Linked DNA regions of Homo sapiens: region 2 is linked to region 1. The links come from fine-mapping of genetic effects on gene expression. A gene starts in region 1. The other region holds a variant in brackets. All regions are shown on one strand. Distances are from middle to middle.

The links. PIP is the estimated chance that this variant, and not a neighbour inherited with it, causes the effect. A credible set is the group of variants that fine-mapping cannot tell apart.
Region 2: its variant is the best candidate, but not a certain one, in a credible set for the expression of FRAS1 in fibroblasts (GTEx, PIP 0.84).

Annotation. Positions count from the first base shown.
Region 1 is chr4:78,054,411-78,059,793 of GRCh38, forward strand. It overlaps FRAS1 (Fraser extracellular matrix complex subunit 1), which reads left to right and starts at 2,913. Exons shown (of 74, transcript NM_025074.7): 1 at 2,913-3,675. The coding sequence starts at 3,600. RefSeq lists an enhancer at 1,499-2,470.
Region 2 is chr4:78,480,332-78,485,714 of GRCh38, forward strand. It overlaps FRAS1 (Fraser extracellular matrix complex subunit 1), which reads left to right. Exons shown (of 74, transcript NM_025074.7): 57 at 1,473-1,633; 58 at 2,057-2,204. Among named protein-coding and RNA genes, the nearest start is that of ANXA3, 69 kb to the right of the region's middle. RefSeq lists an enhancer at 765-1,964. The variant G/T (reference allele first, on the strand shown) is at 2,467.

The DNA.
Region 1 (5,383 bases):
AATTCCCCAAAATGGGCAGCAACAAGGACAGGGAGTTGTGAAGAGATGACAGCAGGGCTGATCCAAGGAGATATTGTGGAACATATTAACAAAAGTTGTGGAATCTGGACTTGTAACTAAAGAGGACTGAAGATATAGACCCAAATATCTCTGGCTAGTGAATTGCCAACTTCCTATGAGGAAGCATGAAGCTGTCATTTGTGGAGGTTAACTTATAGAGATAAGCTAGTTATGATTAGGTGCATCTCCATAAACATGCTTACTAAATTTTCATCATAATGAAATATGTTAGGTTTATATAATCTCTTTTTCCAACATTTCAGTTGAAGTGAACATAGGTGTTAGATATGCCTAATATTACAGAAATATTGGTTGACCCTTTGCTCTTCCAAGTGATCTTAGGGCAAGGACTCAGGCTGCCTTCTCCCTTGACTACTTAGGGCAGAGGGAGGACTATGTGAGTGGGCCAGCATGTGCCCCTGTGGTGGACTGGTGGTCAAGGGGGGATGTTATATATAAATCCAATAAATACAGCATATGATTAATTCAGGGTAACTTGGTAGTGCTATTCTCCCTTTATTTATTGCTTTTCCTTTTTGAAAAGTAGCATATTTGCAATTAGCAAGTATAACAGATATCTTATTGAGACCTGTGCCATAATTGTATGATTTTTGGAGTGCAGTGATTATTTATAGGCGTAATCAGGGTGGACCATGGCCTCCAACTTCCAAGCTCAAGTGATCCTCCCGCCTCAGCCTCTGGAGTAGCTGAGACTACAGGTGCACCCCACTGCACCCAGCTTGATTTTTAAAATAAAATCAAATTGTTGATTTTTGAGAGAACAAACGGTTTAAGTTACTCCCATTCAGTAGCAGCTGCAAAATTAGGAGGGGGTTTAAGGGTGACCGTCTGGTTGTCAGAGTGTGTTGGAAGCTGAGTTTGAATTTGCACATCACTTTACATGGATTGAGAAGATGTCCTCCACCCCCCCGCCCCGCCCGACCTTTATTTTTGAGACAGAGTCTCGCTGTGTCACCCAGGCTGGAGTGCAGTGGTGAGATCTCTGCTCACTGCAACCTCTGCCTCCCGGGTTCAAGTGATTCTCGTGCCTCAGCCTTCAGAGTACCTGGGATTAAAGGCATGTGCCACCACACGTGGCTAATTTTTGTATTTTTAGTGGAAATGGGGTTTCACCATGTTGGCCAGGCTGGTCTCGAACTCCTGACGTCGTGATCTGCCTGCCTTGGCCTCCCAAAGTGCTGGGATTACAGGCGTGAGCCACCGCACAGGCCCTACTTTCTAAATAAAAAGGGAGGGGTCTTTTTTTGGGAGGAGGTTAAGGCCCGCAGCTCCCCTTGATATGGCCGCTGCTCTCAGGCACTTAATCCATTATTTCAACAAATGTTTAAAGAGCACCTACTATGTGCTTCAATTATACAAAGATGATACAACCTCTGTCCCTAGAATGACCACAGCCCAACAGAGAGACTGAGGGCGAAATGTGCAAACCCTGGGTCCTCCAAATACTTAAGATTCAGAGCCAGGTTGTCAGAGGTTCTCCTTTGTTCTGGCTGAATAGTAACACTGACAGGGACCTGCCAGTTTCAAGTTATTCCAGTTATTCGGAAAAGTGAATTGTTCCAAGTGGCGTCAGTGCACGTTAGAACGTGGGCCCGCGTCATGGTGTTCGTGAAGACTGGAAACAAGTGGGACCCCCGCCAGCACAGCTCATGCAACTGCTTCCCCTCCAACAGTTTCGCCCATCCCGACTCAATTGAGGGACCCGAGACGTTTCTTCTCTGGGCCAATCAGAACCCAGTCAGCATCTCTCTGATGCAACTGTTCCCTTATAAAACGATTAAACGTGGACCAGCTATTTTTATTCGGTCCTATAAAAATAGCTGCCGTCAGTCAGTCCTGGCGGGGAATCAAGGCCTCTGCTCTTCAAGTGCGCGCCCCAGTCGGCCGTGTCCTGATGTTACTTTCCCAGCCATTGGCATCTGGGGGCGCAGCTGGACCCACAGCTCCCAGACCGCGTTGTGTTCCACTGACAGAGTCTCCTAGGGAAAGGGAAAGGTGCATTTGCTCTCAGGCTCCGCCTAGGACACACACACCAAGATCTTCCCGGGCTGCTGGTAAAAGCCAGGATGCAACAGCCTGAGGGTCCCAGAGCGAGGAAGAAGGATCAATCAGGTCCCCCGGACGCACTTAGTTCAGCAGGAGTGGCGGGCTGTGGGGGTGGGAGGTAGCCCCAGGGCCTTTGATGTGGGCACACGCTCCCCCAGCCCGCCGAATCGGTTCCTCCCCTAACAAGGGATGTGGACACGGTTCATCTGCCTTCCGGTGTGCCTGAGCAAGAACTGTGCAACCTATCTCCACCCCCTCCGTCCCCGGTATGAGCACTTTTGATTCCTCCCCAGACAAAGCCAATCTGAACTCCAGCAGAATGAATAAAGGGATCAGGTTGCTCTCCCGGCCTCCCCTCACCTCCCTCCTCGCTTCTCCCTTTCCCCACGTGACTCTCTGGAATTTCGCCAAAGCTCCGAGTCTCTGGGTCCATTTTCACACCGAGCAAAGCAGAGAGGAAGGAGGCAAGGGAGACTAGAGGAAGGCTGAACGTGTGTCCTTTAAACACGGGGTCCAGACCCGGCGTATTTTGGGCGTTTCCAGGCTCTCTCGCCAGAGTGGCCTTGAGTTTGGGGGTCTTTTCCAGCCTCGCTAGCTTTTTCCTCCGTGCAATTAAAATTATGGCTCTTCTTCCACTCCCGTAATCATTGCACCTCTACCCTGCAGACCTCCTCCGGGGTGTTCAGCGCGGAGGTGGGTGTTGGTGTGCAGCAAGCCGCGTCCCCGCAGCCCTCCTCACCCAGGCGAGGGGCGGGGACGAGAAAGTAGCAGCAGCGCCCCCCAGTCTTTCCTCTGAAGCTTCCGAACAGTCTGCTTCAGGGAGCGCAGCCTGAGGCGGTGTGGTGCGGTGCGGCTGCAGGGCGGGCGAGTCCCCGGAGCTGCCCTCAGCGCTGCACAGTTTCCAGCGAGCGGACCCCGGCAGATGAGGTCTGCCGAGCCGGGTGGCTCGACCAAGGAGTGGGTGTGGGTGGGTCTTTCGGGGCTCCCGGCGACCCGCGGTGCCGACGCAACGCCGACGTATGGTGCCAAGCGAACTTTAAAAAGCTGCTTCGGACAAACCAGAGCCAGGATTTCCACTGTCGGGGACCCGGGATCGGAAGGGTCTAGCCCGAGGGAAATGCTGGAAGATCCCATCGGCCAGTGACCAGCAACTTTCCGGCGAGATTTTGACGCGGAGAACTGTGCTCTGCCTCCTCTTATTCTCCCAAAGCTCACGTTGGCGTCCTGCCTTGCGGGGGAACTCGGCGCGCTCTCTGCCTGAGCAGCGAGTGAATTGAACCCCAGCCCGCTCCGGCGCCTCCGGGCTGATGAGTGTCGCTCTCCGCCCGTCCATCTCTTTTTCCCGGAGGTAAAGGCCCGCGGTCCCCCACCTTCAGTGCGCCCGGGTTCCAAGCGCCGGAGCCAGCGTTTTGGCGGAGCCGCTTCTTGGATGCTGAAGGCTGGGCTCCTCCATCGTGGGTGCCGAGGCGGCGATGGGTGTCCTCAAAGTGTGGCTCGGGCTGGCCCTAGCGTTGGCGGAATTTGCAGTATTGCCTCATCATTCCGAAGGTGAGAGAGCGGTGCCGCGTGTGTGTGTGTGTGTGCGTGTGCGTGTGTGTGTGTATGTGTGAGTGATCGTGCAGTTTAAAAATCTCAGCAGGTTTTATGGTATTTCGGTGAGGTGGAAGTTTTTCTGGGAAGGGTGAGGTGGAAGTGAAACTGGAATAGGCTTTTTCTGATAAGATTCCTACTCCTGATTGTTTTGTATTCGGATTACACCCCCGAAACGGCCTCCCTCTCTGCCCTAAGTGCTTTTGGGTGGGTGGGTGGCCGATGGAGGTGACATCTCTGAAACTGATCCTTTTTCTTTCCACCACCTACCTTTCCCCGAAGGGAAAGCAACTGCATGGAGCACAGGTGAGGAGCGAACAATTGCTCTTACCTGTTTAAAAATACTTCTGTTCCTAAGAAACATACAGTCTTTCATCTTAAAGCCCCATCGCTCTCCCGCCCTCCTTACCTCAGTTAGTCTCCCCCTAAAGTCCAGTTAGGATTTTATAACTAACTGGTTGGAGCGTGTTCTGGTCGTGGGCAGTTCAGTTGCACTGAAAGAAATCTCTCCAGTACGGAGAAGCACGAACCAGCCTGCTTCCCAGAACAAAAGTGGTTAATAAGAGTTTAGGTTCATTCTTTTACTTCACCCTCCGCCTCCTGGTTTTCCTCCGAGGCTCCAAGCTACCTGTAAAACCCCGGAGCCGCAGGAGAGAAAAGGAAGCCGTGAGACTAGTTGTCGCCATGATATCAAATGCAATCCGGGCTCAGCCAAATAAATGAGTCAATAAGTAAATCAAGAGTTTGGGGTCATGGGATGCCGGGCCTGGGGACGCGAGGCGCTGTGAGCTCCCTCCTGCTCCGAGGAGCCAGGGAAGTCGCCCCGCCAGTGCTTAGGGAGGGGGAAGGGAGCCGGCGGGCTGGGAGGAAGACGGCTTAATCCACAGCGCCTGGCTCTCGGCTTCCCCTCCCGGCTCCATTCATTATTCATCCAGCTGCGGGAAGAAGAGTTCACCTGCCCAGCCGCAAACCAGAGCCGCGGCTGGGCGGCGGCGGCGGGCGCAGGGCGGGCCGCCTTCTCCGCCCTGGTGCCTAGGAAGGGGCGCGGGGCGGCTCCCGGGAGTCGAGCTCTGGCGCAGGACTGGGGGCTGCGGGAGGCCCGGGGAGGACAAAGCTCTGCCTCGGGTCGACCTCCAGTCACTGGAGCAGCTGCCTTTTCTTTGCTGGCTTCCCAAGAGAAAGGCCTTGGGAATCCACGCACAAGGGTGGGGGACTTTCCCGTGGGTCCAGGTGCTGCCTTCTGCACTCTTCCGGGATGTGTGTCAAGTGTGTATAATCTCCGCGAAAGGCACATCTGGGGCCTGTGCAGCCTTCTCCCAACAGTGCAAGTCCTGTAGAAATATAACTTTATTGTTTATGTGCGTGTGGGCGCGTACTTTGGAAAAAAAAAAAAAAAGCTTGTAGGGCTTGATTATAACAATAAACCAGATGAGAGAGTCACCCCAGGCCACCCAAACCTGAACTTGGTACTTAGAAAAATTAATTTCACTTGGTGGCAGTTTTTAAAATTTAGAGTCCTATCCCAGCAACGCAGGAAACGTGCTATCACTCCCGGATAGCTCACCAGGGGGCAGTTGGAATGGTGCAGCTTGTCGGAACCAAAACTCTGAAATCAACAAAAGGCATTATTATTAAGAGCCTGCAGGGTGCGCTCTTTGGCAGATTG
Region 2 (5,383 bases), 430 kb after region 1:
GACAAACTTCACATGTTCTCACTTATTTGTGGGAGCTAAAGGTTAAAATCATTGAGGTCATGGAGATAGAGTGTAGAAGGTTTTACTCTGGTTCTTGATGGCAGGCAGGGCTGTGGCATAGAGCCTAGAGCTTCATGGGCTGACCTCTGTGGTCCAGAGGGAGGGCCTGGCACTGAGCATCTGGGCTTGTGAAAGGGGAGAATGTGATATATTGAGGATGGAAGTGAAGTATTTAGTGTACTGCTAGCTCCTGAACACTCTCCAAAGTTTCAGTGTCTTCATACAGTGAAACTTTCTCATTCATGTAAGAGCCCAAAGCGATCAGTGGGCAGGTCACTTTCACATGGTATTTCAGAGACTCAGGCTCCTTTCCCACTTGTGGCTCCACAAAGGTCTTGAAGTCTTATGTATGCTGCAGGCAGATATACTGCTGGCAGAGGGGCAACAGCTGTGCTGAGTGTCTCCTGATCTGGGCCAGATCAAGGCCTTTCACATCTATGAAGGGATTTGGAGGAGCACTGGGAACAGGTATTTTTGAGCACTTACCGAATGCCGGGCACCATACCGTGCATGTTCCATGCATTCTCACTTAATATTCTATGGAAGAGAGAACATTATATAAAAGAGCAAATGGAGGCCTGGATAGGTTAAGTCAGTCATCAATGATTAAGCAGCTAATAAAATGGCAAGGCTAGATTCAAAGCCAGACCTTTCTACTATAGCATGTTTCTTTTCCCATACAGCAAATGCCCAGCCATAACTACATTGCATCTCACAGCATGTTGGCTAGAAAATGTGGTGATTGAAAATTGTAGGGTTTTCATGAAGCTTTTCTCTGCCCTTGATTGTGAAAATAGCTAAATATCCTTAGGACACTACAAAGCATGATGTCACAGTGGACAGGAAGATGAGCTTCATTCCTAAGATGAGTAATAAGCACATGCGGTTTAAGTCATGACATGTGCTTGGGTAAAACAGAGAAATCAACTCAGTTAGGAACATTTAATTAGAAACATTCAGCTTCAGGCTCCATAGAGTCCCCTAGCTGGGTCCTCCTTAATTGACTATTTTCTGACACATCCCTGAGGCCCCAGGCTCTAAGTTTCTTCTCCCTAAATAGGCTTGAGATGTTTTGCAATAGACCCTTCTCTCCTTAAGTGCATTGTTCTCCTGTGAGCAGTCTCCCTTGTGAAGCCACAACAGCCTTCTCCCCTAAGGGCTCTCTCCAGCACCATCTCCATGAAGCCCTTCTCTAGGTCTCCTCTTGATCCTAGTGTCAGTGAAAAGACAGGTAGTGACACCTCTAGGCCTTCACCTCAGATGGGCCATAGGAGCATCACTGAAGCTAGATTAGAAAAGCTCAAAGGGCTAAAAGCTGCCACTATTGCAGTGAGGGAGAACATCATTCTGAAAACCTCGCTGATTTTCTGGCTCAAAGTTGACCATTAAAATCTCTATGAATCTTAATTCAGGCACAGTAAAGATTCCAGTTATCCGCCATGGTACTGACCTCTCTACTTTCGCATCTGTCTGGTGTGCAACGCGGCCCTCAGACCCAGCTTCTGCCACACCAGGAGTTGACTACGTTCCCAGCTCTCGGAAGGTGGAATTTGGGCCTGGTGTCATTGAACAGGTGCGTTTACAGCAGTCGAGACTCCACAAAGTTGACAGGTCGGTTTGTGAATGTTGTCTTTAGTTTGCTTCCCAAGCTCTCTAAACTCCCCTGGCGATATTCCTATCTTTCCTTTCTTTAAAAACACACATACATAAACAAGAGAGTTAACTTAGGAGGGGATCTTCTAAAAACTCTCCTAGTGACATTTTTAGCATCAAATATCCAGCCTTACAGATTCAGGATATAAACTATACTCATTTGATATAAACATCTAAAAACAAACTCCGAGTGGCATGTAATAAAGAGATCATCATGTTATGGATTAGAAAATCTTACTTTAAAACCACCAAAGACAGGCAAGTTGTGACCTTTGCCCTAGTCAAGGTAAATGGGTGTTAGATGGTGGGTCCTCTGTCAAGTTTGCTTTGGTTTCTCTTCTAGTATTGCACCTTGACTATCTTGGATGACACTCAGTATCCGGTAATTGAAGGACTGGAGACATTTGTGGTTTTCCTCAGCTCAGCACAAGGAGCCGAACTGACCAAACCCTTCCAGGCAGTCATTGCAATTAATGACACATTCCAAGATGGTAAGAGATTGGGGATGCCAGCTGGTAGGTCCAAATATATTTCTATTTTTTCTTTAACGTCCACATATGTGACATTGGAACTCATTCACATTTTCATTCAAGAAATATGTGTGTGTAGATGTGTATACGTGAGCATTTGCACTTTTACATAGCAGAGTATGTAGATGTGAGAGAGAACCATTGATGTCTCCGGTACTCTGCCAGACACAAAGAGATGTATAAGCCTTGGGCCCTGTCCTCAAGAAGCTCAGTGTCTCCCTGT[G/T]GAATCAGACCCTTAAAGAGAGAAATTGGAATAAATCATGATAAATGACCTAATAGTACTATACATCCAGCACTATGGGAGCAGAGGGAACTGAACAGGAACTACAAGTGGGGGAAATTATAGATTTCACCAAGGAGATTATATTTAAGCAGAGTCTTCAGGTGTGATAGGAGTCTATCTAATGCATAATAAAGGAAAACCTATTTCAAGTGGAGACATATAGTAAATACAATGTATAATGTGTTGAAAGATCCACATTTGGGGAACAGACCCTTACTTTTGCTTTGAGCATGGGAGGGGGTGAATAGAAGAATGGAATGGAAAGACAGATTGGAGTCAAGTTCTGAGAGGCATTGTGATCCAGCCTAAGGACTCTATAAGCAAAGGGTAGCAGTGGATGCTTATAAGCAGAGGAGTGATGTGCTTTTTTATTTTAGAAAGCGAATATTGGCAGTATTGTAGGTGATGTGCAGGGATGAATAGAGGCAGGTATATGAAGAAAATATCAGTCACTGCTGAAGATGTAACCTAAGTAGCATGAGGAAAAACAGGAAAGGATGGTTACTTCTCAGAAGAATTGACGAAATTAGAATTGTCAGAACTTCAGAATCCACTGTTTGGATACTAGGGTTTGGTGGAGAAGATCAAGTGAAACCTTCCACCTAAAGCAGCAGGACCCTCATTAGCATTCCCAGAGATTGGCCATAGAGCCCATGATTAAACTCCTAGCAGCTGAGAAGTCCTCAAAAGAGGAGCAAGAAGCCAAGTCGGATAATCTTTGATGTTTTTATTTATTCTTAAATCATTTATTTCATGTATATAGTAGTAAACAATTCAAATGGCAAAAAGCGTATACTATGAAAATTAAATCTTCTTTCTACCCCTATCTCCCAGTCTCCCAGTTCTCCTCACTGGAGACAACAATTTTAACCAGTTTTTTGTGTGTTTATCCTTCAGGAGAAAAAAAAAACTCTCTCTCTCTCTCTATATATATATATATAAAATTATGTATGTGTGATACACACACACACACATACAACAAACATACACATACTTGCATGCATCCAAAATGATAGTAATTTGTTTTAGAGCCAGGTTTATGAAGGTGCAACTTGCATAAATGAAAGTCCATCGTCCTTAGTGTACAGTTCTATGAGTTTTGACAAATGTATACAGTGATATGCTCACTACCACAATCAAGATGTTGAACAGTTCCAACACTCTGCAAAATTATCTCATGTGCCTTTGTCGTCTGTGTCTCCTTAGTCACCAGCCCTGAAAACCACTAATCTGTTTTCTGGCCCTAAAGTTGTGCCTTTTCCAAAATTTCATAAAAATGGAATCATATAATATCTATGATTTTGCATCTGGTTTCTTTCACTAGAAAATGCATTTGAGACTCATTCATGTTATTGCATATGTGAGTAGTTCATTCCATTTATTGAGATTAGCTTTTCATTGTATGGATTTACCACCATTTGTTTACTCACCTATTGAATGACATTTGGGTTGTTCAAGGTTTTGGTGTTTAAATTGCGTTGTTTTCCTACTTGTATTGCATTGTTGTAGATTCTGGACAGAGATTTATATTTTGCAAATATTTTATCCAAGTCTGTTTTTTGTCTTTTTGTTCTGTAAACAAACATCCTAAGAGTAATCATTTTTCATTTTGAAGCAGCCTCATTTATCATTTTTCTATTATGGATCATATTTTTAGTGTTGTATCTAAGAAATCTTTGCCTAACCCAAGGTAACAAAGATGTTCTCCTATTTTCCTACAGAAGTTTTATAGCCTTAAGTTTTACATTTAGGTTTGTGATTCACAAAACGGTAACTTTTACACCATGAACAAGATTATGACACTTATATTATCTCATGTTGCATGTTACTTCCAAGTTTACAAAGCAATCCATTAAGCCTTATCTCACTTGCTCATAACCCCGTGCTCTTTCTTCTGTTTCTATTTAGTGGATAAGGAAACTGAGAATCAGAGGAAATAGGTCACCCAATGTCTAGTATCTAGAGGAACCAGCATGCATTCTAGGACTTTTGACCCCAAGTTCATCCTCCTTGCATTATATACTACATGGTTTTAATTGGTGTAGAAGTAGAATCAGTGGCAATTTTATTTCTTAGTAAAGAGGAAGATAAAACAGAAAGAAGAAAATTCAGCTATACGTTTTATTCTTGAAATTGTTTCTTATTCTTTTGCATGAAATGACCATTAATTTCCCTCTGATGAAGTGGAAAGTGAATACAAAGTTGAAGTCCTGAAATATAATCCTAGCCCCACCACTTCCTAGGTCTTTGGCCTTAGGCCAGAAGCTTAAGGTTACTAAGCCTCATTTTGCTCATCTATAAATAATGAAAATAACTACCTTACAAGATTGTTGTGAGGATTAAATTAGATAAAATATGTGAAAATGCCTGCTGTAATACCTGGCACACAGTAAATTTTATTACATGTTGATTTCTTTTCTTCCTGACACACCTGGCATTTATCACTCTTACCAACAAGACTCCAGTAACATATAGAGTCCTCACTGATCAACACACAAAATTATATTTAAATATTTTTCAGTATTTTATTGATGAGCATTGGGTTTGTCAACTTAGGAAACTGATATGTTAAGCAAAAATTTTCTTTCAGAAAAGCTACAGCTTTTCTTTTTCTTTCAGAGAAGCTACAGCAATATGTGTTTAATCAATAACTTATCCCAGAGAAAGAAATCCCAAAACCTATTTCAGTAACTCAGCATAGCATTCAGTACTTACTTCTTCTGGTTATCTTTCTTCCTAGTAATAACGAACTTTTGTTGAGTCCATTCAGTGTGAACATTCTAGGGTAGAAAGATCTTACATATTATCCCTAATCCTTGCAACAGACCTTTAACTTGTGAAACCAAGTTTGAATAAT